Linked DNA regions of Homo sapiens. The protein of the gene in region 4 purifies or fractionates together with the protein of the main gene of each other region. This does not show direct contact. Each region holds a gene or a part of one and is shown on either strand. Other genes may lie near its edges. The genes, in order: AGRN, GPC4, SERPINA4 and PDPK1.

The links.
Region 1: the proteins of PDPK1 (region 4) and AGRN purify together in Homo sapiens (affinity purification with mass spectrometry; 2 studies listed by BioGRID and IntAct, with this or other methods). This does not show direct contact.
Region 2: the proteins of PDPK1 (region 4) and GPC4 purify together in Homo sapiens (affinity purification with mass spectrometry; 2 studies listed by BioGRID and IntAct, with this or other methods). This does not show direct contact.
Region 3: the proteins of PDPK1 (region 4) and SERPINA4 purify together in Homo sapiens (affinity purification with mass spectrometry; 3 studies listed by BioGRID and IntAct, with this or other methods). This does not show direct contact.

The regions. Positions count from the first base shown.
Region 1 is NC_000001.11:1,037,096-1,044,119, reverse strand, and holds part of AGRN (agrin isoform 2 precursor), read right to left. Parts: intron 3,456-7,024; coding exon 3,240-3,455; intron 2,948-3,239; coding exon 2,723-2,947; intron 2,643-2,722; coding exon 2,418-2,642; intron 2,345-2,417; exon of another isoform or gene 2,324-2,344; intron 2,165-2,323; coding exon 1,958-2,164; intron 1,944-1,957; exon of another isoform or gene 1,372-1,943; intron 882-1,371; coding exon 663-881; intron 583-662; coding exon 388-582; intron 298-387; coding exon 97-297; intron 12-96; coding exon 1-11. UniProt on the Homo sapiens protein: Isoform 1, isoform 4 and isoform 5: neuron-specific (z+) isoforms that contain C-terminal insertions of 8-19 AA are potent activators of AChR clustering.
Region 2 is NC_000023.11:133,412,474-133,420,425, forward strand, and holds the start of GPC4 (glypican-4 precursor), read right to left. Parts: upstream 3,017-7,952; 5' UTR 2,493-3,016; coding exon 2,333-2,492; intron 1-2,332. UniProt on the Homo sapiens protein: Cell surface proteoglycan that bears heparan sulfate. May be involved in the development of kidney tubules and of the central nervous system.
Region 3 is NC_000014.9:94,556,604-94,564,441, reverse strand, and holds the start of SERPINA4 (kallistatin isoform 2 precursor), read right to left. Parts: upstream 3,001-7,838; 5' UTR 2,948-3,000; exon of another isoform or gene 2,727-2,947; coding exon of another isoform or gene 2,633-2,726; intron 977-2,632; coding exon of another isoform or gene 960-976; coding exon 311-959; intron 1-310. UniProt on the Homo sapiens protein: Inhibits human amidolytic and kininogenase activities of tissue kallikrein.
Region 4 is NC_000016.10:2,597,003-2,603,694, reverse strand, and holds the end of PDPK1 (3-phosphoinositide-dependent protein kinase 1), read right to left. Parts: intron 6,573-6,692; coding exon 6,420-6,572; intron 6,045-6,419; coding exon 5,928-6,044; 3' UTR 507-5,927; downstream 1-506. UniProt on the Homo sapiens protein: Serine/threonine kinase which acts as a master kinase, phosphorylating and activating a subgroup of the AGC family of protein kinases.

The DNA.
Region 1 (7,024 bases), on a different chromosome or scaffold from region 4:
ACCGCACTCGGCTGCGGGGAAGGGGAGCAGAGTCACCCAGGGGCTTCTTGTCCAAAGCCAGAGCCCAGCAGTTTTCGCCAGCGTCCCCCGGCCTACCCTGCTCGCACGGCCCTGCCCGGGCCTCCTCGATCTGTGTCTGCTGGAGGCAGGCGGCTTCCCGTAGCTCGCAGGCACTGCCGTAGGTGACACCGTCGCTGCCACACACGGGGCCGGGCGGGGGGTGCTCACACCGGGGACACACACACTGCCCTGCGGAGCACACAGCCCCAAAAGCACACACGGCATCTCCACAGGTCTCTGCAGGAGACAGAGCCAGGCAGGGGTCGGCAGGCCCAGGCTGAGGGAGGCACAGGACCCTGGCCCGCCCGGCCCCAGGGCCTCACTCACCACAGGGTCCAGCTGAGGCCACGTGCAGGCTGATCTGGTGTGTGCAGGCGTGCACGTGCAGCATGCACTCGCTGGGGTACGTGTGCCCGTCGGAGCCACACACGGGCTGGGCCAAAGCCACGCATTCAGAGGGGCACACGCAGCGCCCGGTCTCGGCCTCGCACAGGGCTCCAAAGCGGCACTGCCCGCAGCGGTCTGGGGAGGAGCTTCCATCACCAGGCGACCAGGAACCTCTCTCTCCCCGACCCCCACCAGACCCCTCACCCGCCACTGACCACAGGGTCCTTTGCGCGCCACCTGGATCTCCCGCCCGAGGGTACAGGCCGTGGCCTCCAGCTCGCACGCGCTGCCGTATGTGACGCCGTCGCTGCCGCACACAGGATCGTAGAGGCTCGAGCACGCCTGCAGGCATTCACACGCTGCCTGCCCGTTCTTCACAGCACACGTCGCCCCAAATGCACACTGCACCCCGAGGCATGGGGACGGGGCCTGGTCTGGGAAGGACACAGGGGCTCAGTGGTCCCACAAGCCCCCCCTCCGCTGCAGGCAAAGCCCCCAGCCCCACGCAGCAGTCCCTCTTCCAGGGAGGGGATGGTGGAGGAAGAGAGAACACAGGAGAAGGGCCAGATGCACAGCAGACACGGCAGAGAAAGGGACAGACACGCGGCAGAGGCGAGCGGAACACACACCCAGGAGTCCCCGGTGGCTGCGGGCGAGGCTGCCCCCAAGCTTGGGGCTTCCTGATTGTCCACAGCAGGCTATGGGAGGGCCAGGCTTCCCCAGCCTGCCCAGGCCACTGACCCCTGACCACCAGCATCCCCAGGACACCCATGCATGTGGGGGGGCTCTCTGTGGGTGGGAGGAGCCTGCACCCCCAGAGTCACACCCAGGGCTGCACGGGGGAGGAGGTGTCTGTCCACTTGCTCTGAGGACCACAAGGCCAGGCAGCAGCAAGCCACCCCCCCTGCCGCACCAGGGGCAGACCTCGGGCTGCGGGCTCCTGGAGGGCAGGCACGGCACCTCATCCTGCCAGCAGGTCAGGCTGGAAGACACAAGAGGCGGAGCCGACAGGGAAGAAGAGACCAAAGAGAAGAGACAGACGCAGAGAGAAAGACCAGAAGATGGGCGAACTGACCAAGACGAACACGACGGGACACGACGGCCACTGCCTCCCCCTGGCCCTTCAAGTCCTGACACTGCCTCCAAAACGGCCGACGGCTGCCCATGTCCCAAGAGTGAGGACCCTGGTGTTGTGTCCAGCCTGCCCACCCCAACAGCCTGTGCTTACAGCGTGGAGACATGCGGACAGGCCAGAGGACTCCCAGGGAGGGCGTGGCTGAGGTCAGGGACCAGGGAGCCTGGACAAGGCCCCGCCTCTGCCTCACCAGCCCCCAGGTATCCAGGTACCCTCCGCACACAGGCTCCACCCTCCCCAGAGCCTTCCCAGAGGGACCGGCCCACTCCCAGGACCCCAAGAGGAACATGATGGATGAAGATGGCATGTGATGTCCAGGCAGGGACTGACGCAGGAGCAGCCCACCCCGCCTGGCCTCCACCCCGGGGCGCTCACCACACGGGCCCTGGTGCTTGCTGGGGATGGCACGCTGCTGCCGGCACTCAGCCTGCTGCCGCCAGCAATCACTGTCATACGTGCGCCCGTCCTGGGCACACACGGGCCTGTAGGCCCCGTCACAGGTGACGCGGTCGCAGGAGCAGCGGGGACGGCCACGGCGGGACAGGCACACGGCATTGAACCGGCAGGGCTCCGGGCACTGGTCTAGGACGCAGGGGTGAGGGAGTCACGGAGAGGCTGGAGCACCCTCCATCCCTGCCCTGGGATGTGCAGGGAGCAGGGGAGCAGGCGGCCCTCCCAGAGGGGAGCCGCCCACCTCGACCCTGGCACTGGCCGCAGCCCTCCCCCGGGGGAGCCGCCCACCTCGACCCTGGCACTGGCCGGAGCCCTCCCCCGGGGGAGCCGCCCACCTCGACCCTGGCACTGGCCGGAGCCCTCCCCCGGGGGAGCCGCTCACCTCGACCCTGGCACTGGCCGGAGCGCACTTTCTGCAGGAGGAGACCCCGGGCGGCCCCCGATCGGCCCATGACACAGTCGTTTTCGTAGGTGACTCCGTCGTCCCCACACACTGGCGCCTGCCGGGCAGGGCAGCTCTCGGGCCGTAGGAGCATCTCAGGGCGCCGCGTGCGCGGGTTCACACGGCAGCTGCGGCTCGGGTCAGGGAGGGCGCCCTGACAGGGGTCTGGGGGTCGAGGGCAGGAGTCAGGACGCTGTCGCCGCGCGCCCACAGAGCTCGAGCCGTGCGCCCGCCGCCGCGCTCACCACAAGGGCCGTCGAACTTCTTGAAGACATTCTCCTGGCGGGCGCAGGCGCGGCGCAGGAGCTGGCACTCGCCGGGGTAGTCGGCGCCGTCGCTGCCGCAGACGGTCCCCTCGGGGGCGCCACGGCAGGTCGCGGGGCACAGGCACGAGGCCGTCAGCCCGTCGGCCGAGCGCGCACAGGTGCTGCCGAAGCTGCAGGTCACGTTGGAGCAGGGGTCCCGCGAGCCTGCGGGCGGGGCTTTGCCGGTCAGACGGGCCGCCCCCGCCCCCGCTCCCGCCCCGCTCCCGCCCCGCTCCGCCCCCCAGGCCCCTCCCAGCCCCGCTCCTCCCCGCCGGGCCCCGCAGGCCCCGCCCCCGCTCCCGCCCCGCTCCGCCCCCCAGGCCCCTCCCAGCCCCGCTCCTCCCCGCCGGGCCCCGCCCCTGCCCCCGCCCCACTGGCCCCGAAGCCCCTCCCAGCCTCGCTCCATCTCATAGGCCCCGCCCCTCCCCGCCCCAGGCACCGGCCCCGCCCCGCTCACCGCACGGCCCGCGGCTGAGCAGGCGGATGCGGCGCTGCTGGCTGCACTGCGCCCGCTGCAGCTCGCATTCGTTGCTGTAGGTGGAGGCGTCCGACCCACACACAGGCGCCACCACGCTGGGGCACGGGCTCTTCTTGCAGACGCAGGACGCCCGGCCCGGCCCCTCCGCGTTGGGCTCGCACACGGCGCCGAAGCCGCACAGCATTCCCCGGCACGCTGGGGCGGGTAGGGGAGAAAGCTCAGGGTGCCGAGACGCCCGTACCCACGTCCACAAGCCTGAGAGACCTTGCCGTGCTCGCAGCCCGCGCATTCACCCGCCCCCGCGCCGCATCGGGGGTCCACCACGGACACGGACACGCGTGCGTGCGCTCACAGGACCGGCCCTGCCCCTCGCAGACCCCGCCCGCCGAGGATTCCCGCCAGCCCCGGGCCTCTCCAGGGATGACCTTTCTCCCCCACCCCGCACCTGCAGGCGCGGAGAGGGGCGTCTGCCGCAGGCGGCACCCGACTCTGTTTCTGCGACGGGCGAGCACCCACTTCCCACCCACCTCGTGGGCCTCCAGCGAAAAGCAGAGACGCCTCGAAACCAACTCGGGCACAAGCAGTCCAGGCCCCAGTTCTGCTCAGGAGCTCCTTCCACATCGGCACCGGAGCCCCTCACCGATTCACCCCATGGAGCCGGGGGAGCCCCTTCCCGCGCTGCTGCAGCGTCCAGCACAGCTGAGCCCTGCCGCCTCCCGCCCGGGTCGCACCCAGGTCCCGCGTCTGGCCCTCAGGGGCCTGAGAGCCCCACCGGGACGGGGTGTGAGGCCAGGTCACAGCTCTGGCCCACCTCTGGCGCCTCCCTGACCGCTCCCTGCGCCTAAGATGGGTGGGGAATCTTCTTGCCTCCCTCTCCCCAACTCTTCCCCAGCTTCCCTGGAGAAGTGCAAATTCCTGGCCTCCGCCTCTACTATCTCCTATTCTCCCTGGCCAGCCCCCCACCCGCGGCAGGCCTGTGCCCTTCTGCAGCCTCCCATCGCTCCCTGGGATCCCTGGGGCACCCACACGCCCCCTCCTCCCTGGGCATCCCCCGGCCCCCCACCTCACTCTTGCCTCCTCCATCGCCCTCACTCTCTGTCAAAGCGAACTTCCTTCTTGGAGAGGTGCAGGAACTGTTGCTCATTTTAGTTCTTACAGCTGCAGACCACAGCGCCTGACACACGTCCCATCACCAGACCTCAACGTGGCCAACAAAGCTGCCTCAGGCACGTTAAAACCCAGAGCCCCTGCGGCAGCCCATCCTGAGCACCCCCACCCCCAGCATGGCCCACCCAGGATCAGGGAAGGGTCCGTTAGCGGCTGCAGCTGTCTGGATTTAATAAATGTTTAATTGGGTCCAATTATCATTAATAAGTCATGTCAGAGGGGTGGCTACCACCCATCACTTCCCAGCAGGCTCGTGAAATGGGGCAGGAGGAACCCCCCCCATCTCCAAGGAGGGTGGGTGCACTGGGAGCTGGAGCCAGCTGTTGCTATAGCAACAGCCCACCCCAGGCTCTGGCGCTGTCTGTCTGGGTGTCCCTGCCCCCACCCCAGAAGGCTGAGTGAGGGCCATCCGCCTGCCATCCCTGCAACCTACCCATGCTCCCCCCACCAGATCCCTGTCTTCCTCCCCAAACCTTGGCTGTGCCCCCACCCCTCTTCTGCTACTCTCCCACCTCAGGTCTTACAGCCAGGCTGCTCAGCTCTGCATTACCCACTGTGAGAATGTGGGCAGGTTATCACCTGCCTGGGCCTCAGTATCCCCTTCGGTGAATAGGAGCAATAGGACCTACCTCCCAGGATTGTGGGGTTAAATGGGCCAGTATCTGCAAAGCTTAGAGGGTGCCCAGCACACAGCGCTATGTGGCCCGTCTGCTGCCACTGTAAGTATAGTCATGAGGGCTGTCATCACCACTGGCCTTCCCCCGTCCTGGCTCAAATCAAACTCAAACCACATGCACCCCTGGCCCTTTCACTTCCCTTCTGGTTCCCCTTCTCTCTCCCCTCAGCATCTCCCTCTCCCTTTGGCCCTGCCTTGTCCAAGGCCCTGGGACTCCCAGTCCAAATCCAACGGGCACCTGCTGATGCCCAGCCAGCTGTTCTCCTGGGCTTCGGCTGGACCTGTGGACCAATGGTTCCCCCCAGGTCCCAACCCCATGGCCAAGGACCCAGTCACCTCCCTGCACCAGGGCTCCTGAGCCTTTCTCCCCTTTTGGTCACCTTGGCTCAGCCAGACCTCTCCCAAGGCCCTGACACCATGGCCAAGGGCACTGTTCCTGGATGGCGGGCATGCTCCTCATCCACCAGGACCCGCAGCTCCCTCCATAGTCCAGCCCGAGGTCCTGCTACGTCCCAAGACAGAGCCTTGGGGAAGAAGGTGATGATGGCAGCTCACCAGGGTGAGCGGGGCTGGACTGCTTGCAGGGGCATGGAGAGCAAGCTCTGGGATGGGAGCCTAGAGGTACCTTAGGGACAGGCTCTGAGTGACCAGCTGCTGGACCAATGTGGCAGGGCAGTGGAGAGACCTTGGGTACCTGGCGGGACCTTGAAGCCAGGCTGAGCACTGGCTCCCCATCCCCATCTGGTGTGCAGGGCCAGGTCCTGGCCCCTTCCCCTCTGCCTCCAGGGCCTCAGAGAGTCCGCTCCTCTTGGAATGTGGCCCCAGCTGTGGAGTGGGGGTGGATCTCCCTCACAGCATTTGATGGTGTGACACTGCCGGCCAGCCCAGGGTTTAAAGGTCACAGTGCTGGTCCCTCCCTCCTATCCCCATCCAGGCTGGAAACACATCTGCCCCTCAAGAGTGAGCTCAGGAATCACGGCCTCCGGGAAGCCCCACCCCCCCATTCTCCGCTCACACTGCGGGCTTAGGTGAGGGGCCGCTCCCACCACTGTGCTGAGTCTCCACAGGCCTAGGGGATCATAGAGGCTCCACACGAGATCACCTGAAGACAGGTGCACGTGGTGATGGCACACACGCACGTACCCGCCAGGCACAGCGCATTGCAGCAGCCACGCCCCGAGATGTCTCCCCTGCCAGCTGGCAGGAGGAAGGTAGGCCACCTGACAAGGCCACACTGCTAGAAATGCCAGCACTGGGCTCAGACACATCTGTGCTCCGGTCACCTGCCCACATGGCCCCTCATAGATGCAGGTGACACACCTAGGACCCTGAGAGCCCTGTGTTCCCGATGGGTCATTTTTGGGGGTCCTGCCACGCCTGTCTTAGCTCCACCTCCTGCAGGAGCCCCTCCCCGGCCACTCGGCCTCCCCACCCACTCTCCCGCAGCGTGACGGGTCCTCCCACTGTGTGCAACGCTGGAGGCGGCAGTGCTTTTTATAGGAGCGGGTATATTTAACTCCCTTCCTGGTCCTGGGTAGGCTGGGGGATGGAGAGGATGCCCCAGCCCTGCTGTGAGCTCTGGCCCGTAACTATGACCACAGTTAGGTGGCATGTGGGTCACGATGGCCTTGGTGTGGAGCCCTCCGTGACTCTGTGGCAGGGTGGGCTGTGGCCAGGTGAAGGGGGCAGTGTGTAAAGAAAAGGAGACACTCCCCAGCCTTCTGGGTGTCAGGAAACGAGGCTGAGGATGCTAAGAGAGGGGACCTCCCACCTGAGCACCTCTTTAAATCCAGTTGGCTCCAGGCCTCTGGCTCACAGGTGGTGGAAACGCAGTTCTTGCCCTGGCCCTGCCCGGCCCCAGCCACCAGCATAGACCTGCATAGACCTGTCTCCTCCCCAGGACCCAGCCCACTGGGAGGGT
Region 2 (7,952 bases), on a different chromosome or scaffold from region 4:
GTGGTCTTCCAAGGATTCCAGCTAAAAAGGCACTTCCTTTGTTCCTCAGGAGAATGCAGTCCAGTAGGTCATTCAAAAGGGGAAATAAAAGCAGCAGCCCAGGGAGGGAGATGAAGGACAAGACAAAAAGAATAAAATGTTTTGGGTGTGAGCACATTAGCTTCCATTTCCTGCTGCTGGTCACTAATAACTCCCCTATCTTTGGCATGGGGGAATGTCCAGATAGACATATACGCAAAATATCCCTCAGGTGATTTCTGGGGATGATGACAATCAAAGGGAACACCTAGCACAGAGTCTCTGAGCACCCTTCAAGCTTCCTTTTTCCTGAGATGCTGGCTGGGGAAGATGCCCTGCCACAGCGAAAGACTGCACAGAGCAAAGTTGGGGAAACTGGGGAGGGCAGTTTCACAACCCCACTCGCTGAATGCCTGCAGTCAATATCAAAGGCACATATTGTTTGCATGAGCAGAAGATGAAACCTTGTCACATTCCCATTAAGTGCAGAGCTGCATCTACCCCTTCAAAATGTGGGAATGACAACTGTAACCTTCACGCCAATCATCTCCGCTGTGCCCAGGCCTAAACTGTGCAGGGCACAAAGACCCCAGGTTTGACCTGCAGAGTCCCCAAGCTTCAGCGGCTGGTGGTTCACTTCATTTTTTTTCTGGCGGGGCAGGAGGAAGGGAAAGAAAGAGGGCTTTTCAGGGCTCTACAACCAATAAAATCGTGCCGCTTTGAGGACATACTTGAGCTCCCCAAAAGACAGGCAGCTGAAGGGCAAACAGTGTCTAATCAGTAGTGAGCATGTTATTTGGTAACTGCCAAGGTGCAGTGGGCGCCTGGGCTGCTCCAACAATTTCTTCGCTTCTATTTCTAGACAGACGCCAGTTACACTCCAAAAGTGCCCAGCAACTTCCCTCAATTACCTTTGTAATTAATATGTAATTGATGACTGCACTTAATCTCCAAGGTTATTAATAGCCCTTCCAAAAAATGACCCCCAAATCTTCCTAAGCCTTTGGAAGCGCCTGGTTGAAATTACAGTATTTCCTTTGCTGGCTGCCGGCCCCCTGCCCGCCCCACCCGGAGACCAGCACGGCAAGGCAAAGGCGCGCTCCACTCACTTCCATGAAAGGTTCGGAGTGGAGGCTCAGCCCCCCCCCCGGGCTCGAATCTCTCACTCCTCCGTTAGATTACGCTGGCCACCAGCCAGCTAGATTCGTGGTGCTTTCTGAGCCCCCAGGGCGAACGGGCTACCTGCGCGGCCGGCGGGGCTGCGCGCAACAGTTGGCCGCTGCTAAGAAGACAGTGCGACCCGGAGGGGACCCGGCCGGACACCGCCGCCAGCTTCGCTGGGAGGGACGCAGGGCACCCGCCGAACGCTGCCTCCCCAGCGCTCCGAGAGGGGCTTTCACAAATACCCCCATACACCCCCCATCCCACCCCACCGGCGCCAAAATCCGGTGAACTTTCTCACAGGCTAAGCCGTCTCTATTTGCATAACCATCTCCAAACTGAGATTCAGGTTTCCTGTAATCAGTCCTTTCAAAGGTCTGTAATTGAAAGTGCAATTAACCCTTAAAATGAGGTAAGAAAAAAGAAAGAGGGGAAAAATACTCCTCTGGTCTGATACCTTCCGGAAAGTAGGAGAGTTCCCAAAAGTCAGGGTTTGGAGGGGTGGAGAGTGGGGGTAGTCGTTTGCTTTTTAAAGGCGACTTCTGAAGCGGTTGCGGCTACTAAAACTCCTAATCCTTGTCAGCGGTGCAAGAGAGGCGGGGAGAGAGTTTTAAAAGAACATCAATGAAACATCAATTCAAGTTCCACGTTTTGCGACCCCCAGAATCTAGCAAGCTCCGGGACGTTTCCCTCCACCACACCCCACTGGCGACCCCCACCCCCACCCGGCCTCTCCTCACCCATACAACAAAGCGGGGCGTCCTATAAGGAGTTCAACCCGGAAAAGGAGAAGTAGCCGGTGACACGCACTTTGAGGGCCACAGTCCTCAGGGGCTTCCCGGGACGGCGAATAATGCAGGGGGGAGAGGAGGAGCGGAGGCGGGGAGCGGAGCGCGACAGTCGCACTGGGCAACCCGGCGGCGCCCCTCCGCTCGCAGTGCTGGGAAGGGGGGAGCGCTGCGCCCGCGGGGAACGTCCTGCGCCCGGGCTGCCTGGCTCTCTCGCTCGCTCGCTCCTGCCCTCTCGACTGCCCATTTCTCCCTCTAGTGTACCTGCGTCCGGCGCAGGGGGCGGCGGGGCGGGGGAAGGGAGTTGCAGCCTCCCTTCCCGAAGTGTCGGTCTCTGCGCCCACCTCCCGGGTGTGCCCACCTACCGTTGATCTCGTGGAGGGGGGCATCGTTCTTGTTGAAGCCTTTGGACACGTAAAGACGTCGCACTTCCGAGCAACTTTTCGACTTGAGCTCGGCAGCCAGCAGCGCGGCGCTGAGCACTGCCAGGGTGCAGAGAAGCGCGGGCAAGCCGAACCGTGCCATGGTGCGGGCCGGGGCGGACGCGTTCCCACCTTTGGGACCGGACGGGAAGCGGCGCTACGGCAGCGGGCCGAGGGCTGGCGGAGTCGGGGACTAGCGAGTGGAGCTGGAGGGAGAAGGAGTTGGAGTTGGTGGAAGAGGCGAGCAGGCGGAGGAGACGCGGGGCGAAAAGTAGAGCTGGGCCTCGCGTCAGGCAACGGTCCCCGGTGCCAGGCGCCGGGCCAGGGGAGAAGGAGGGCGTGGAGGCGGCGCGCGGCCCAGGGAAGCAGAGGCGCGGGCTGGTGACCTCGGGGTTTCGCGGGGCAGCGAACCCGGCAAGCTGACTGGCCGGCGAGGCGGGGACGCGGGGAAGGAGGGAAGGGTGGCAGGCGCCGCGGGGACCGCAGAGGGTGTGGGCGGCGGCGGGCGTTCGCTGCGCGCTGCTTGGGCTGCCCTGCGCTGGTCCGCTCGTCCGGCTGGACTCGGCTCGGCTGACTCTGCCCTCCGCCGCGCGGCTGTGCCCTTCTCAGCTCTGCCGCTGATTGACTGGCCGGCGTGCGCGGCGACGCTCCGCAAACTTGGCCAAGCGGGCGGCACTCGGGGGGAGGGGGCGGGCGTCGTGGGGGGGCCGGAGACAGGCGGGAGCACGCTGGGCCGGGCCGGGAGAAAACCTGGAAGCCGGGTTGGATCCGGAGCGGCCAAATCCACTTCCTAGGGGGCCGCACCGGGCGCCCGGCGCTCCTTCGCGTGACACGCCCCACCCGGCTCCTCCTTCCTCCCCTCCTCCTCGGAGGCGGGGAGCCAGCCCACCGCCCCCCAACCACAAAGGGAAGGCCAACTACTCCGGGCTGAAGGGCCCAGGTTCTGGGGAACGGGACGGCCTGGGACTTGTCCCGAAGCCCATGTCTGAGCCCCAGGCCTTCTTGCGCGCGGCCACCTGACCCGCCGCCTATGGGCAAAAGCCGCGCGGAGCCCTCCCGCCGCGATATCCGCCTCCCCGCTGCCATCCCGCACCCGCGGACGCTCCTATCCGCGCAGCTCCCGGGCTGGGCGGGGAAGGCACATTACTCGCATTGTTTCGCTGCAGGCAGCAGGGGGATTTGGGGCTCCGAGCTCGTCCTAGAGCCTCACCTGGTCTCCCCAGACCTGCTTCCCATAGGACGGTACTCGTGAAACACCAGTTTGTCCAGGACCCCATCAGGCATCCTCCTTCCCGCATCCGCAACACTCCAACCCCTCGACGCCACTCCCACCCCCGACCCGGTTCTACTACAAGTCTAACCGAACTCTGAAGCGGGAGAAACCCCCAACCGCGAGGTGAGGGGGCAAAGACAGGGTTGACCGCAGAGATCTTGGAGACCATTTGGCCCAACCCTTCCTTCTATTAAGGGAACTGGGGCCCAGAAATGGGAAGCGACTTGGTAAATAGCACGCCGGGGAAGGGGGCGTCCAGAACCCGGGACTCTTGACTCTCGAATTTCATGGAATAATGGTAGCCCAGGACTCCCAAACCCCCTACCCCCTCAAGCCCCTTGAGAGAGACTGACACCCCTCTGGGACTCAGTCCCCACTTTTCCACCAGAAAACTGGAAATGGGAGAGACTTCCCATCTTGCAAGCTTTGTCAGATTCCATTAATGAGTGTTTTTTTGAAGCTCCCAGCGCTCCTTAAATGAAGGGAACTGTGCAGCTCGGGAACTTGTCATTACCGTTGTTATTGTTACAATCTGCTTTAAGAGGTTGGGTTGAGAAGTGCCTCAGACACCTCGGGAGTGTGCTGGGAACTGGGCAGATAAAAAGGGCTGGAACTTATTATTTGGCTAGACTCTCAATTCCCATAAAATTACATAGGGCAAAGATACGAACCATCATTACAGTTATCACCCTCAGAGGGTTTGTTGAGACTTTCTCCACTGTTGTTTGTAAACCACGTTGACATGGCTGGCTATGAGGAGCTGTTATTTTGAATACCTGCTTGCAGACTCTTCTACATTTTGTTAACAGACTATCAACATGAACAGACTGTGACCCGTCTATAACTGTGACTTCCAATTTCTGTGGGCTGGCTGAATATTTAACTCTGAAACTAGGAGAGCAATTTTTTTAATGTGCAAACTCAACTACAATTGAATTTCCTGCCATTTTCAAGACTTTCCTTAAACTGGTAACCATCAAGTCCTGAAGGCATTGCTAGGGCTTAGCTGAGCACTTTTAATTTTCATTGATTGATACATTTACTTAAAGATGTTCTTCACCAAGGAGAATATGCTCTGAGATGCAACGAGCATTATTATAAAATGGAAGCCAGTGACCGTAAGAGAGAAAATGATACTCCTGAACCATGAAGGCCAAATCAGAAAGCTACTTCTCACACCAAGGCTGGGAGGAACTCATTCGTTGCCGCCGCTCCCCCCCGCCGCCCCCGCCCTCCCCAGGTTTACTCCTGCTCTTCCTCATAATGTATTATTAACCCAAACTTGAGCCTTTTCCACCAGAAACAGTAACCTCTGGCTACAAACAGATCTGGACAAGTCTGAACTTTACCAAGGGAGGCAGGAACCCCAAGCCGTGCTCAGAGGCGGCTCCCACTTCAAAGCCTCCTTTCATTTAAATACAAACAGGGTGAACAACTGGCAATCTACGAAACAAATACCATCCAGAAGGGAAGCTTTCTTTTCAGATGGGCCAGAACTCCTTCTTCCCTCTCCCACTCCCATCCCTGCTGTCTTCAGAAGAGGCTTCTTAGTGGAGATGCACCTACTCCTTGTAAGTTCTCTCAACGCCAAAAAATAGAGACTGCATGTTGACTGCAAAAATCGATGACTTCTCAGGCTGATTAACCGTCATATAACTTTTTTTTTTTTTTGCTTTTTAGAATTGTGGTAAAAAGCACACACATACGCAATTTGGTATCATTTTAACCATTTTGAAATGCACACTTCAGTGGCATTTAGTACAATCATAATGTACAATCATCACCACTAGTTACAGAACATTTTCATCACTCCAAAAGGAGACCACATACCCATTAAGCACTCAAAGTTCATTCTCTTCTCCTTCCAGTCCCTACAAACCACTAATTTGCTTTGTCTCTATGGATTTGCCTGTTCCAGACATTTTGTAGAAATGGAATCATACAATACAGGGCTTTTGTGTCTGACTTCTTCCACTTAGCATCATGTTTTCAAGGTCCATCCATATGGTAACATGTATCAGTACTTCATTCCTTTTTATGACTGAATAATGTTCCATTTACGGATATACCACATTTTGTTCATATAGCACTTTACAAGTTTGCACAGTGCTTCCAGGTGCACCCTCATATCTTAGAATATTTTGTTTTTTGTTTGTTTGTTTTTAATTGATAAGCAAACCAAGTCTCAGCAAGGTTCTGTGGCTTCTCCACAGCCACAGAGCTCTTGGGTGGCTAAACCAAGACTGAAATCTAAGGCCTCTGACCAAATCCCATGCTATTTTTGTTGTGGTTGTTGTTGTTGGTCAGAGAACACAGTGCTCTGGGTCTCTTTTACTGTCAGCAGTGAATGTACAACTGCCAAGGTCCTGTGGAAGTATCTTTGTTTTAGATTGATAAATGTTCATTGAACACCTCCTATGTGCCTGACAATGTTCAGTCCTAGAGGAAGGGAAGATGTATAAGCCAAAAGGAGTTTACAGTTTTATAAACGGTGTGCAAAGGCTTGCTTAGATAGAATGCACTAATGGTATACTTGTTTTTCCCAGGTCAGGAGTTTCCCCTGATATGACACTGGGAGGGGGAGGGTACATTTGCTGGTGGGCAGAGAGAACAAAGAATGCATTCCCATGCTTCTGTCCTCCAATCCAAGAGAACTGGTTGAGCCAGGTCTACTCTCTCAGCTTTGAGGACACTTCTCATGGCCTGCTGGGGAGCTACCCTGATTTCCAAATATGGGGCTGGGAAGAACCAAGCCTGGACACAGTGGCTCATATCTGTTAGGAGGCCGAGGCAAGGGGATTGCTTGAGCCTAGGAGTTCAAGACCAGCCTAGGCAACATAGTGAGACTGTCTCTACAACAAAATAAAAAGTATCCAGGCATGGTGGTGCACACCTGTGGTCCCAGCTACTTGGGAGGCTGAGGCAGGAGGATTGCTTGAGCCTGGGAGGTAGAGGCTGAAGTAAACTGTGATCACGCCACTGCACCACAGCCTGGGTGACAGCATGAGACCGTGTTTCAGGAAAGAGAGAAGGGAAGAGAGGAGAGGAGAGGGGAGGGGAGGGGAGGGAAGGGGAGGGGAAGGGAAGGGAGGGAAGAAAAGAAGGAAGGAAGGGAGCTCCCTCCCTTAGTTAGGGTAAGATGTTGGCCTGCAGCCCTCTAGTCTTTCCCTGTATCCAGCCCATTCCCCACACAGCCATCAGAGTGAGGCTTTGACAACATCTTCTGGACAATGTCCTTCTGGCTGATTTTTGTAGAGACGTTTTGTCATGTTGCCCAGGCTGGTCTTGAACTCCCAGGCTCAAGTGATCCTCCCACCTCGGCTTCCCAAAGTGTTAGGATTATAGGTGCGAACCACTGTGCCTGCCCCCCCACCTTTTTTTCTTTTTCTTTTTTCTTTTTTTTTTTTTTTGATGCAGGCTCTGTCGCCTAGGCTAGAGTATAGCTTCCACCTTCCTGGGCTCAAGCGATCCTCCCAGCTCAGCCTCCCGAGTAGCTGGGACTACAGACACATGCCACCATGCCCAGCTAATTTTTTTTTTTTTTTTGTATTTTGTAGAGACAGGGTGTCACCATTTTGCTCAGGCTACATTTCCAACTTTCTTACTGGCCCTTCCCTATCCTGTATCCTGTGCTCTGGCCCCACAAGAATGTGTCATCATTCTCCGTCCTGCATGGATTTCTCTACCTGTACCCTGCCCCTTCTTATGCTATCCTTTCATTCCCCTCCATTTCCTGGACAATTCTTTCATACTCATCCTTCAAGACTCAGCTGAGAAGTCACATCTTCTGGAAAGCTTTCCTGGATTCCTCCAAGCAGAGCTAGCCCCTCCTCCTCCTTTTAGGCCTCCAAAGCACTGTCTGCATAAAATGACTACAACACTTGCTCCTTAGCAGAGGCCACATTTTCTTTGAGAGTTCCTCCACTACCAGCCTCCAAGATGTCTTCTAGCCTTGCTTTATTTATTTATTTATTTATTTATTTATTTATTTTTGAGACAGAGCCTTGCTCTGTTGCCCAGGCTGAAGTGCAGTGGTGCAATCTCGGCTTACTGCAACCTCCGTCTACCAGGCTCAAGCAATGGTCCCACCTCAGCCTCCCAAGTGGCTGGGATCACAGGTACACACCACTGCACTAATTTTTATATTTTTGTAGAGACAGGGTTTTGCCATGTTGCCCAGGCTGGTCTCAAACTCTTGGACTCAAGCAATCTGCCCATCTAGGCTTCCCAAAGTGCTGGGATTACAGGCTTGAGCCACCACGCCTGGCCTTAGGCTTTATTTTTATTTGC
Region 3 (7,838 bases), on a different chromosome or scaffold from region 4:
TTGCACTGTTGGTAGAGGCTGAGCTCAGATATGAATCCAGCAATTCAACTAATGATCACTGGCTATAATGCATTTTATACATTATTTTTATGAAGAAAATATGTCTAAAGATAGGAAGGAATGGAAACCTCAATACTACAGAGTCTTCAACATACAACATTCTCACATTGCATTCCCTGAGGGTTGCTCAACCCTATCAGACACAACGTTTTTACTTACATTTTTGTAAAAATATATTTAACCAGTCAACAAATTAGTGGGTTGGAGGCGGTGGTGTGGATTTAGCATATACCAATGATCTGACTCTCACCTTTGAAGTAAATGTAATTCACCAGCACCATCAAGACGTCCTTCTTGAGCTCACTGACCAAATCCACAATCTTCCCTCGAGTTTCCTTCTTGACGTGGTCGTTGATAAGCTGGATTGTGCCCACAGTGTCGTAGAAGTTGGTGTGGAAGAGTTTAGCCTCATAGACGGCCATGGTGTCATTCAGGAATTTTGCAAGGAACTTCAGGTTGTGGCTCAGGAACAGAGCACTGCCCACGCGTGTTTCCAGCCCATGGCCGGGGAGGTTGAGAGTGTGCAGGAGGTGCTGGAAGCCCCTATGGACATCGGACTCAGACAGCTCGGTGAGGTTGAAGCCCAGGCCCTCAAGGATCTGGCTGCGGCTGTGTGAGCAGGCCCCCAGGGAAAGCATGGCGTAGGCCGCCGAGATGCTCAGCGGGGAGAAAAAGATGTTCTTCCCCGGGGTCTCCGAAGCGATCAGGTAGTAGAAGCGGAAGGCAAAGTCAGCATTGGCAGGGGCTATCTTGAGGCTGGGGGAGCCCTCACCTGTCTCCAGAATCTGCTGGTGGGAGCTGTTACTGCAACTCTCACCATCATGCTCAACGTGCAGCTGGCCATGAGAAAGGGCCAGTAGTCCAACCAGCAGGAGGAGCAGGTAGTCGATAAGATGCATCCTCTGCACTCTCAGGCCTATGGGAGGGAAGAGAATGCCCAGGAAATTCCCCCAGAAGAACACCTGGCCCTACTGAGAAGGCTGGCAGTGGGCCAGCACCCGGAGATCGTGAGTGACACCCTCAACTCCTGCAGATGGGCTTGTGAAAGGCAATGTAACACCCACCACCTTCCACATGTATGGTGACAGCAACACTATTGGATGGCAATGTTTTAGACTTACAAGGCACACTCCTTGTGTCCATCATGTCATTGTGTTTCCCACCTGTGTGAGCTCTGCACAGCACTAGACTCCATTCTCACCCAACAGAGCAGGAAATGAAGACTCCCAAAGTGACTCACCCAAGTCACCTACCTAGCACATATCCCAGCCAGAACCCACATCCCCAGACTCAGGTGCTGCTTCTCCCACACTTGTCTTTCAGATGAGTTGATTTCATTAGTGCAGTGATTTTGCATGGAGGATGGCTATCCTCAGAGTTTATTTTAGGGTCTGTTCCACAAACATCTGTGGAGTGCTTTATATGGTTTACAAACCACTTTCAGCCATTTAGTTTGACCCTCCCACCCCTGTAGAGGTCAGTAGAACTGGTCTTTGTATTGTTACCCCGTACAGACAAGGACATGGATGTTTAATAAGTGACCTGCCCAAAGTTGTGGGGATAGAATTGGTACCCGTTTCATAATGAACATCTGTCCAAGAAAGGATACTCCAGTTTCTCCCCCAAATCTGCTCCTGCCCCATCAAATGGTCCCACCAGTATCCGGTTGTCAGGCCAAAAAGCTTCTAGGCTTCTATCCACCCAAAATCCATTTAATCCACTTCCATGACCTGCAGGGTTGGGTTTTTTTTGTTTGTTTGGTTGTTTGTTTGTTTGTTTGAGACAGGGTCTCACTCTGTCACCCAAGCTGGAGTGCAGTGGTGTAATCATGGCTCACTGCAGCCTTGACTTCCTGAGCTCAGGTGATCCTCCCACTTCACCCTTCCAAGTAGCTGGAACTACAGGCATGCACCCTTCCAAGTAGCTGGAACTACAGGCATGCACAGCCACACCCAGCTAATTTTTTATAGAGTTGGGGTCTCACCATGCTGCCCAAGCTGGTCTCCAACTCCTAGACTCTCCTGTAGGTTCTTCAGCCTCTCGCCCCCTCTTTTGCTATGATCCTCAACCAGGGCTCAGAAAACTTTTTCTGCAAAGCGCCAGATAGTAATATCTGTGGTTTTGCAGACCACACAGTCTCTGCTGCCACTACCCAACTCTGCTGTGGCAGCTGGAAACAGCCACAGACCGGACATGCATGAAGAGGCGTGGCTGTGTTTCAGTGAAACTTCACTTACGGACACTGAAATGTGAATTTCATATTATTTTCCTGTGTCACAAAATGTTGTTCTTCTATTGATTTTTCATAGCTTTATATATTTATCTTTTATACTTATCACTTATATTTTATATTTATATTTTACATCTTGCATTCTTAGCTCATGGGCGGTGGGCCGGATTTGACCTACAAGCTGTGGTTTGTTGACCCCTGACCTAGACCCTTGCAGAAAGCTTCCTAGTCTTTCTGCTCTCTGTTCTCCACTCAGCAGTTGGAGGGATCATTTAGAAACATACATAGGACCGCATCACTCACAGACACACCTCCCCTCCGGCATGAGCTCCCCAAGATCACCTGGATTGGCAGCCAGAAGACCTTGGCCCTCAGTCAGTGCCGCCCTGTACCAGCTGTGTGTCCCTGGGGGAGGCTTTTCTGGGTCTCCGGGCATAGTCACCCACCAGTGCCCATGGACCCTAAGTCGGGGCCTTTCTAGCCTGAGTATTTCTCACCTCTAGCAAGAGTGACAAAGTGTCCCAGCTTGCCTGGGACTTTCCTGGTTTTAGCACTGAAAATATATCCCAGAAGAATTATCAGTCTTGGGCAAAGTGGAACAGTTGGTCACCCTCCCTCTAGAGTCTCTCGTCTCCATTGTCTCAGGGGGTTACTCACGGCACAGTCTGTCCTGGAGTGGACCCCCTGGGTGGCTGTCTCAGCTCTGTCTTATCAAGCCCAGGAGGACTGGTCAAACCAGGCCTTCTCAGTACCACCCACTCTCTCCCGACCAGGTAATTATTAACAAACAGGCTACGGGTGCAGCATTGCCTCAACAAGGAAAACTCACCAGAAGTTGGTTCACCCCCTCCCAAGAAGACACCCCACTTCCCACCTGGGGAACCCCAAGAGGGTTCACTTCTTCATGTTTGTGCAGTGCATGGAGGTTCGCCTGGCCCTTGCTGCTCCCCGAGGGCCCGGGGAACCACTTGGAAAATCTGGTCTCCAACCAGCCCCTCACTAGCTGTGTGAAGTTGAGCTCATTTACTCCCTCTCTGAGCTTCAGTCGCCCACCTCCCTCCTACAACATGAGGGGCTGGATCAGACAGGGGGCAGCAAGCTCCAGCGCCGCCTTCCTAGATCAGGTAAGGAAGACTCCATGGTGCCACGGTGGGGAATGGTGGGGATGTGTGGAAGTGAGAGAGCCAGCTCTCTACAGGCCAGGCAAGACCCACCTGTGGGCAGGGCCTCACAGCAGGGCCTCCAGTTTGCAATCCTGGACTCTGTGATTTCTGAGGATAGAGTCCACTGAGATCTCATAGGTCAGACCATAAGGAGAGTACATCCCAGGGCAAGGGTGGCATGGGGTGGGACCAGGAACCTCCTTGGGCCAGGTATTCAATTTGCATTTTTCTTCTTTAACCATGGAATTGAACTTGTTCTCTCCCCAGTAATCAGTGAACCCCTGCACCCTTGCACCCTTGCACCCTCCTGGGGCAGCCATTTCTCAAGCTATGTGGGGAAGGACTGCAGGGAGCAATGTGGCCCTGGGTGCCCTGACTGAGATGACCTTGACCATTCAGGCATCCTCTAGCAGACTTTCTGGATGTGTTTCCAAGTCGTTGGGCCTTAAGGTAAGTGAAATATACACCACTGAGCAGCACAGTGGGCTGGGAGCCCTGAGCGATGTAGACATGGGGATGGCAGAGCAGGCACAAGCACAGCCCTGGAGCCAGCTGGCCTGAGGTCCAAAATGGGTCAACACCAGGACAAGAGAGGAAGCTAGCAGGTCAGGCAAAGTGAGAGCTACTGTCTCAGTGGATTCTCGCTTTCCCTCACTCATCTCTCTCTTTCCCTTGCCTATACACTCTAGGTATACTAAGCTTGGCCCATTTTACACATGAGAAAATGTAAGCCCGGAGACATTGTTAGCTCAGATTCCAGAGTCAGGGTCTGCTCCGTGGCCACTGAACATGAAGCCCATATTCCTTCCCAGCATCTGCTGCTTCTCCACTTGGACAGACTTTTCCTGCCACCGGAATAGCAGCTGCTGCTTTGCTTACTGCTGTACCACGCGCTAGAGCAGAATGTGGTGCAGGGGACATGCTCCATGGATGTTGACTGAGTAAGTCAATGAGTGAAAGATGGCCATGGATTTTTGCTCTGATGAATGTGAAAATACATTATTCCCCTTACAATGGTCTACAGTCTGGGGTTTTGCTTTTTTAGTCTTGCTTCTTCAGTGAGTTTGGGGCTGATGCCACAGATTCCAGGGGTTAGCGTATGCTTGGCTGCAGCCCAGGGGATGGACAGCTTGTCCCTGCCATGAGCACACAGTCACTGCCCTTTAGTTTCTGGCGCCTGCCCCTGGTATGTTCTGGACAGAGGCTGGGCTTTGGCGTCAGACAAGCTCCCTCACTGCTGAGATTTGTGACTTTGGGCAAGTCACTCCACCTCTCTGAACCTCAGTTTTTCACGTGTCAAATGAGAAGCAATAATCACTAATCAGAAAACTGATATTAAGGGCAGGGGGGCAGCACTCTTAAATGTTCTGAGCCCTGTATCAGTCTTAATGGGTGCTTCCTTCTTCCCTTCCCATCCCAGCAGTGGTGGACAGCCAGACTGTCTGGGTTGAATCTAGACTCCACCACTACTTAAGTTACTTAACTCTGCCTCAGTGTCTTCATCTGTAAACTGTGGGTAATAATTGCCCCTAAATCTCAGGGTTGTCAACAAGATCAGTAAACTGACATCTGTAAAGTCCTAGAATAGCATCTGGCCATAGTGAGTGCAGTGGAAGCGTGAGTTAGTCTGTCGTATTATTTCAGATGGGTTGTACATTACTCATTTATCCCCAAAGGTGTACACATGGCTGAAACCATGTTGTTAAACTTGTTTTGAGTTGTGGTCCTGATTATCTCAAGAAAGCTTTGAACTCTCCCTGAAATATGCACAGATGTATGTTTTACAATTTAGGGAGATTCTTGAATCCCATGAAGTCCATGCAGTCCCCGTGGGCTACAGCAGTTATTTTTTCCTGCAAAGAGCAGGCCCATATAAAGGAAAGGTGGAAAGAACTCTCAGGCATGTAGTGGGAGCTACTGACTTGGACCCTGCAGGAGAAGGAGGGAATGACGGCAATTGGTGTGGCTGCAGGCTGGGCTCAGTTGCTAACTCCAGCCTCAGTCCTGCCTGCTTCTTGTCTTAAGGTCTCTGGGAGGGCTTCAGGATTGTTGAACCCTTGCCTGTTACAATTTGAAGGCCAAGTGTTTCTTGTTAATCATCTGTAAGGTCCCAGAGGACAATGAATTGTGCCACAGTCATATCTGGGCACATTAGAACAGGCCTGGCCTATAGAAGATGCTTAACAGAAGTCAGTCATTGAATGAATGAATGAATGAATGAATGAATGAATGAAGAGATGCCAAAGGCCCTGCTCAGAGGTGCTGCTCAGATGTTCCAGTGGCAAGCTCCTAAAATCTGCAACACTCTCGGCAAGTACTGATTTAAGGAAGCAGGGATAAGTTGCCTGACCAGGAAGGCCAGGGTGGATGTGGGGAAGCAGAGGGCTTGACTGCCTCTCTGCCCCTAGGAAATACCACTGGGCCAGATGGGGCAGCTGCTGTGACACCACTGATGTCCCCGGCAGGGAGCCGCTTTTTCCAGCATCCCAGAAACTGCCTGAACTGTGCTGTAGGCATGAATCCCACTCCCTGACACCCTCCTCTGCTCCACTGCATCCTAAATTGCAACCCAGCCCTTTCTCAATGGCTGTCTTGGTCTCCCATTCCAGCACAGGCTCCACTTATGCTGCCCTCCTGCTAACTGCTCCCAATCCCCTTCCCATTCCCTGGATTCCAAATGGAGCCAGGAAATTAATCTGCCCTTAAAAAGGCTGTCCTTGTTTTGAATTTGATTGGCAATGCAATAATGGTCATCATGAAAAATATGGGAAAGTAAAAAAAACCTGGAGAAGAAAATAAAATCATTTGCAAACCTGGTGTTCAGCTTATGACTAGATATAATTGGTTTCCTTCCAGTCTTGTAAGAAATGGGTATGTGCTCATACAGAACAGCAACAACAAAGCTCTTCCAGTCTTGGTTTGGATGGAGGTAGGAAGACTATAGATGCTACAGTCCAAAGAGAGCTCCATGCAAAAATTCCAGAGTAGGTGGTCAAGAACAGGTCTCCTGATTCTTAAATGCTTTACTCATGTGAAAGAGGACTGAAAGGTGTTGAGAGGTGGAGACTGAGAAGGAATTACAAAGAGGAAGGAGAGAAGTGCTTCCCCCATGTTATCTTAAGAGTGCAGAGCTTCAACAAAACACTCATGCAACACAATATGTATCCCTGGAGTTAGAGGGGCTCAGGGCTTGATGCTTGCCTGGAAATGCTAAAAGGTGTAGGTGGGCTGTTTAGCCTCTCTAGGAACTCTACGTCTAATTATCTGTCCCTCTCTTAAACTCATCATTTTCTATCTGGCTTTTAGATACATAGTTACACAGGATACACATACATCCTACTTATGTATAGCTGGGAAACAAGCCACCCCAAATTTAGCGGCATAAAACAATGGCAGTTGTTTGTCATTATTATTGCTATCTCTACAGTTCTGGGGGTTGACTGGGCTCAGCTGGGTGGTTTTTGCTCAGGGTCTCTTATGAGGTTGCAGTTGGACAGGAACTGAGACTAGAGTCATCTTCAAAGTGGATATGCTTTCAGACTACCACATATGATGTCCCTGCTGGACTATGGGTTTTTAGGAAGCAAGCACAGTGTTTTATTCCTTTTTCTTCCTGAATTTGTGTCCTTCCCTCTAACTTTCACAGCTTAGCACATTGCTTAGCACAGAACAAGTCCTATGTTAGGGTCAGTTGAATAAAAAACAATAATTAGACTTCATTCAGGATCATCCTGGTGGATGGGAGGCAAGACTAGATTGCAGCTCTGACTTGGATAGACAGAGCAGCATGCGGAGGCTTGCATGGTGAATTTTAGTGTCAGAATGACTTCAAGAACAAACCAGGAATCCTGAGAGGACACACAGACCCTCTGAAGGAAGTGGACTGCTTCTGCAGGACCCAGGAGATCCCCCAAATACTGTGAGTACCCAAACTGCGGAAATGGGAAAGGGAGACCTTCTGCTATGAAACACACACCCCCACTGGGGAAAATGAAGGTGTAGTTTGTGGGAGAAGTTTCTGACCTTACCTGGAGCTGAGTCGATTTAGAGAGCCAAGCGAAATACAGGGGTAGAGGAAGCAGGGGGAAAGGCCCTGGGAGCTTGCTGGATCTCAAGCAGGCCATTCCTGCATGGCACCACAGGAGCCCTTTGGGAGGGTGGCCAGAGGTGTGGGGCAAAATGCCACAGGGAGAAGGAAGTCTCCAGCTGAAATTTGTAACAATTTGAACAGGGCAAGAAGCTTGCTGGCCAGAACTTGGGGAAGGGTGCGAATCCAGTGTGCCGACTCCACAGGTAGGGGAAGAACCAAAGCCCTATTCTTTCGCAGTTGGGAGGTGAGTAACCTGGGGCAAGTTCCCAAGACCTGCTCGCCCACTGCCTGGAAA
Region 4 (6,692 bases):
CAAGAGGTACAGGAAGGATTTCGGGTCCTGACACAGCGGCGTCTGCCCAGTGGTGAGGAAGTAGGTGCCGCCGCTGTAGAGCCGGACCCACTTGGACCTGCTGCTGGGGCGCTGGGCCAGGACGCTGAGCCCCGCGCTTTAAGGGAGGCACAAGAAGCCACCCCAACCCCGCCCCGAGCCTGCCACGGGCCAGCGGCAGGAGCTCGCAGTGATTCCCCGCCATGATCCCAGCAAGCCCCACCACACCTCCGCTTCACCGGAAGAGTCCGGCTTTTAATATCGCCCTTTGCGTTCTGTCCCGCCCACTGGTCAGCCCTTGTAGAACACCCGCCGGTCACATGGCAGGCGGAAGTTCCATCCGGGAAAAGCAGCCGGCTGGTCCCACTTCCGGAGGGAGTGAAACCGAGCTTGGGGCGCCAACGCTAGCGGGCAATGGCAGACACCCGCCCCCAACCGCGCCCCCACTCCGTGGCGGGGTCAAAGGAAGAGCCACGCCAGCAAACCTCTACACTCTACATGCTTTTTATTACAAGACTACTGACCATACGAGGAAAATTCATCATCTGGTAACTACACCTAAAGCACAAGTATTTGGAAAAAAAAAAAGGATAAACAGATTCATTAAATTATATGATTAAATCACTGACCCAATAGAAAATTTATATAATAAAGCCAGAAAAAAAGTTGTAAAATATAGTTTACAATAATTATTCACATTCAAGGCTGTACATCAATACATACAACAACGTGGCCCCGAACATGAATTCAATTCAAATAATTCATATATTAGAATTTAAATAACACAGACTGAACTAGAGGCCAACAATAGCCAGCAAATAACCTTATATAAGAATAAAAATACAAAAGTGTATATCCTAGTATCATTGCATTTGTTTTCATAAGTTCTTTTAATTTTTGCTTTGTCTGTACATCACAGTTACAGCTACAGACCAGGTAGAGAATATTACGCATGTTCTGCTTGCCACCCACCTGAAAGACGTACTAGTCATTTATCCTATTTTATGTTGTGAAGGAACAGCTACAGCAGCTCTAAATACTGTAACAATTTAATTTTGCCAACATCCAACTTACTTACAGTCGTAATAGAGGCTTTTACCAGCACAATGACCCCTATTCGTAGTCATTCTGCCAGGTGGTTAGGCTATGTGGGTTACACAGCTTAAAAAAGGTCTGCCTTTTGTAAAAAGTTCTCTGTACATAGTTTGGTGTTTCTTCATATGGAAGAAATGAGTTACGGGGAAAATTCAGGTACACACGTAGGCTCGTTCAGTTGCTCACCACAGCCATCTCAACAGATGAAAGTGCTCTTTGTTGGAAACAGCTTCCTCCTCACACCAGTTCTCCACAGGCAGCCTCATCTACAACCCTGCAATTTTGGGCCAGAAGTGGTGGCCCCTCAGAGGCTCTGAAGTGCCTCCAGCCCCGATTCAGGCACTTGCCACGTGTGCTGCGTAAGAAGGGACCCCCACCCAGTGAGTCAACATAGGCTCATGTCAAGTTTGAAAATAACTGGGGAAAAGTGTATGACAACATCTTCCAGAACAAAGTACCTTCACCGTATTCTCACAGCAGCTGCGATCTCTGAAGTCTCAGCAGTGACCACCCCGGGTCTGTCAACCAGCCAGGCAAGGGGGGGCCCTCAGGCTTCAGAGGGCAAGAAACCAAATTCCGTGCAATTTGGCCATAATCTCTGGTAGAGTGAAGCAGCACTGAACACGGTGCCTAGAAAAACCTCCTGCACGTTCCCCTGCACAATCAATGGACCCCAACTACAGTGGAGAAATGAAGAATCCAACCAAATTTGGGTGGTCTGGACTTGCTGCCAGCCAGGCAATCTGCAACACTGTGGGCAGGGAGTTGGGGGGGGCGGCCTGAAATCTACACCAGCTGGGACAACCACGCCCTACAATGAAAAAGCCAGCCTGGCTGCTGGGCTCTTGTGAACCACTAAGACCTGAAGGTGGGGCCCCACGGGTGGAAGGGGGAGACAAATGCACTCTTGTAAAACCCAATCAGCTACGTGGTTTTTTTCAAAGAGGCTTTGCTCTGCTACTGATTCCAAATGTCCTAATATACCTTCTGAGTCTATAAACTTAATTACAAATCACTCACTAAGCATGTGGCAAGGTCAGTTCAACACTTGTTATCTCTGCTGACTGTGCAGATGCAAATTCAGTACCATTGTGGACACGAAGTACAAGATTCTGCCAAGCGCTTGAAAGCCACGGCAGCAGGGAGGGCAGAGAGCTGACATGCAGGCAGAGCCAGGTTCTTGCAACCAAAACAAGGAAATTGGCTCTTGGAAAAAATCGGCCACAGATGGATTGCAGTAGTGACATCCTCTTAGCATTTAAATAAAGAGCGGTCTTATTCAGACATTCTTTGGAACACATGGCTTATCAGAAACCGATTTGTTCAGAATCTGTAAGACACAACTAAGGTGGTTCTGCTACTGGAAGTGAGCGTCTACACATCAGGTCGAGAGAGAGACAGAAATATCTTCAAAATGAACAAACTCTTTCACCTCAAAATACCACTTCCAGGCATCTAAGGGGGAAAAAAGTAAGAAATCAGAAGATTTTAAAGATATTCATCACAGCATTATTTAAATAGTGGAAAAATCAGAAACCGTCTTAAGTATTTTACAGTAGGGAAATGGTCAGATAAATTATAGTAAATGGACAATGACTAAATAGTACAATTGTTAAAAACATGTTTCTGAGAAACTCATGACATGGGAAAATGCTTAAAATATCAAGGGAGAAGACGATGCAAACGGTGTGTGTCGGATGTTCCTATTTTAGTTTAAAAAGTGAACAAATGGCAGGGCAGGATATACGGCAAAATGCTCACAGTGGTCTTCTCTGGCCGGTGAGCCTACAGCTGATCTTGTCAGAGACAAACGTTAGTTTTACTGAGTCACCCAGAGCCCTGTGCTGGTGCCTGAGGGTTTGTTCCATGGGACAGTCTCCACAATTCCTCTGGGGAAGGGCCACAAATCCCACAGTGTGTCCCAAGAGGGCTGGAGTAGGCGGAGTCCCCAGCAGCTGTGGCATGACCAGCCATCTCTCTCAAAACAATTGTTAACAAGCCTTCTGCAAGTTAAGGTTCCACATGGTAGCCGTGGTACAGAGGCATTTCTCTAGGGTGGAGAGGCTTGTGCTCTACACCAGGACTGCCCACCGCCCTGGCTGGGGCCACACAAAGAGGGGAGAAAGGAATCCCTCAGAAGCCAGCCCCCAACTGTGTCCCAGAGAAAGGCGGGGCACCTGGGACACCTAGGCCGGCAGCGACCACAGCCTCCCTCCGCTTTGTGCCGAGAAGCCGCACAGTGTGGTCCCGACATTCCACCTGTCCTTGCCCATGTGTGGGGAGGCACATGGCCCCAAGTCTATTAAACAGCAGGTGAAATCTTCCTCATCTTGGATAAACCCACAACTGTAATTCCACGTAAGTGTGTCTATGTGCACACACAGTACCCCACGTTCTACCGTAGAATGTAAGGCGCCTGCGTGCCAGGTGATGGCTCTAAGGATGTGGTAGAGAAAACCGGAGTAGACATGAGCAAGCACAGGGTAAGGAAAGAAAACACACGGGCCTTTCAAAAGGGAAGAGCAAGGGGCTGGGTGAGGAGAAAGGTGACCCACAGAAGGGCTTGGCTGTCAGCTCAGGCAATGGCATCATTTTGGCTGGCGGCTGCCAGCTCTGGCTCTGAGCCCCTAGTTCTGTGGCTTTGGAGGTTAAGATGGAGCTTGTCAGTGACGCCCAGGAGGTGGTGGTTCTATCCAGAGGAAGAACGCACGGAAGAGTCTCCCCAAGCAGCCCAGCCGAGTGCTCCAATTAAAGCCACGTCCCTGCTCCACTTGTTTCCCTATAACCAGACGCCCTGAGAGATCTGAGAGAGCCACTCTCCTACATGGAGACACAGGACGTTCTGAGATGGGTAAAATAGCTGATGAGGAGGAGGAAGCCTGAACAGAAATTCCTGAAAGGGCTAAGAGAGACTCCCCAACACAGCCAAGCCTTTCCAAAAGCCAGGAGGAGGAGAGAGGACTCCGACTCCGGCCACAGGCCCAGGGCAACGTGCTGGGCCCCGGAGCGTCCTGCTCCCTGGGGCCCCAGGGTAGGTGCGGCCCAGCTCACCCCAGCTCACGGTCACAGGCTCACATGCAGCTCTCACACAGCAGCAGCCAAGGCCCAGGCAGGAACCACAGGCAGGGCCTGGGGAACATCTCTGCCCCCTCCCAGGCCCCGTCTGTACTCGCCTAGCTAAAAAGAGCCACTCTCGTCATTAGCAGTGTAAAAACGACACCTTCCCTCTCAGTTTGGATCTGGCCTGGCACACAGGGTCACTGCTGAGTCACCTGTGACTTGGGGGTAGGGACCAGGGAGGGTGGACACAGTTGAGTCAGAGGCAGGTCTGTGGGCAGCAATGTCTGCCTCTCCCCCAAAGGGAGTGAGGGCTGCCCTCCAGGGACAACCTGGGCAGGGAGAGAAGGGCCCAGACCTGCCAGGCCACCAGGAGCACTCTCTACCTGGGGAGTAGCTAGGCAAAGGACAAATGCATCTGGCCTGTCTGTGCTGCAGAGCGGGGCAAGGCCACCAAAGCATCAAAGGGAAATGGCCCCAAAACCGGCTCTCTCTAGAGGAAAGCCGACCAGCAAGCTGGGGTTGAAGTGTGCTGTTCTCGCCTCCTGTGCAACAGCAACTGGCAAAGCCCACTCTATGGGCCCAGATGAGCCGGCAGCATGAGAAGGCTGTGAGATTTCTGATGCACAGATGTAGAAGCTCTGAGGGGCTCTGAGAAACTTGAACCAAAACACAAAAGGGGCGTGTGTGACGGTGGTGTCTGCACTCCCTGGCGTGGTCTGCAGGAGACAGAAGCACCCTGGGTCTGCTGATGCCAGGGTTCTCTCAGACCCTACTTCAGCAACTGGAGAGGCGTGGACATTTAAACCTTTTAGGAGGCCCTCAGGCCTCTCTGCTCCACACGGAAGTCAGCAGCCCTCTCTGCTCTGGCTGGCTTCTCCAAGGCACCTCCTGGCCCCACCTAGGGCTCGGGGCAGGACTCTCTCGTGCAGTGAGCCAGCGGGGTACTAACTGGGCTCACTTCTGACAGTACCGCTCCCAGCATGCGCTCGGCTTCCAGCCCCAGAGACCAACACTGCTAAGTAGGATAAGGGATCCGGAGCCCTCGATGGCACCCTCCACTCGGCAGCCTGCTCCCGCACCACTCCAACCCCTCCCGCTCCTCACCACGCAAACCTGCCTGCCAACACAGCAGGGGCCACAGAAAGCTGCCACCAGAGCCACCACAGGGATATGTAATGGGCCCAGCCAGGCCTAAGGGCCCATCACAGGGAGACGCAAGAAAGGGAGCAGGTGACAGAAGCACGGCGGCTCCCTCCACAAAGCTGCGGCCCCCGCAGGGCTCCCTCCCTGGTGAAGAGTTCCAGGACCACAGCGGGAGGGGCATAAAGAGCCAAACACACCCGGTCCCCTCGGCCACAGCAGGACCAGCACACAGTTGGGGCAGGGCGGGCGCATGGTTCGGACTGATGCTAGGAAAAACTGGTGACACCAGGTCTGTCCACTAGTCTGGGCGGGACTGGGTTGACGTGCATGGAGCTGGGTCCCCACGGCAACGAGGGCACACGGAGGCCTCCACGGAGCACAGAGAGCAAGCAAAGCGACCCTGAATTCCTTTGTGTTTGTTACTGGTTTTGTTCTTTGTGTGGTTGGGTGTTTTTTTTCTTCTTTTCTTTTAAATAAAAATGCTGCAAGGTTTCCGCCTCTGCGTTCCCCTTGTGATGGCTGGCAGGTGGTCTGGAAGCGTCCCGGATGGCGGCCAAGCCGCGCTGGGGCAGGTGTCCTGGCAGCGAAGGGCAGCCCGGCCGCAGGCCACGTCACTGCACAGCGGCGTCCGGGTGGCTCTGGTATCGCTGCCTCCAAACCTCCTGGATCTTCCTGCACCACTTGTGTGCGTTCCCGCTGGGGTCCATCAGATAATACGTCCTGTTAGGCTGCGAAGACAGAAGCCGTTTAGTGTTCTCCAGGGAGTCCCACCAAAACCCCCACCCCAACCTGGTGAGCTGCCTGCGACCAGCCATTCCGAGTCCTGAAAGCACGTGGGTGTGACGGTTATTCACACAAGCAGTAAGCAACTACACAGGCTGATGACCACCACCCCCAGTCACCACCAAACTGAAAAACAAGCACAGGGTGTCCCCTGCCCCCTCAGGACTGAGCCACTAGTGTGGGCGTCTGGGATGTCGGAAAGGGCGAGGCAGCTGCCCCGATCCCCGCTGCTCCCTCTGGCCAAGGCCTGTGGCTGCTTCCCACGTGGTGCAAAGCCCTCCCATTACCCTGCACACAGAAATCCCTGGGAACAGACTCACCGTGTGGACAAAGAAAGTTTTAAAATTCTTGGCCTCTGGTCGAAGTTCTTGTGACCAAGGAATTTCACCTTTCAGAACTTTGTTGACAGGATCCACATAATATAAATGTGGTCCTTCTGTGAGCAACAGCTGTCGTCGTCTTGCAAATAAACCCTGACGCCAAAACACAAAACAACAGGCCTCAGAGGCCAGTGCTGACGGCATCTCCTGGAGCCTAGAGGGCTGGGCGGCCCCTCGGAGCTGCTCAGGACACAGGGCCACCACCACCACCTG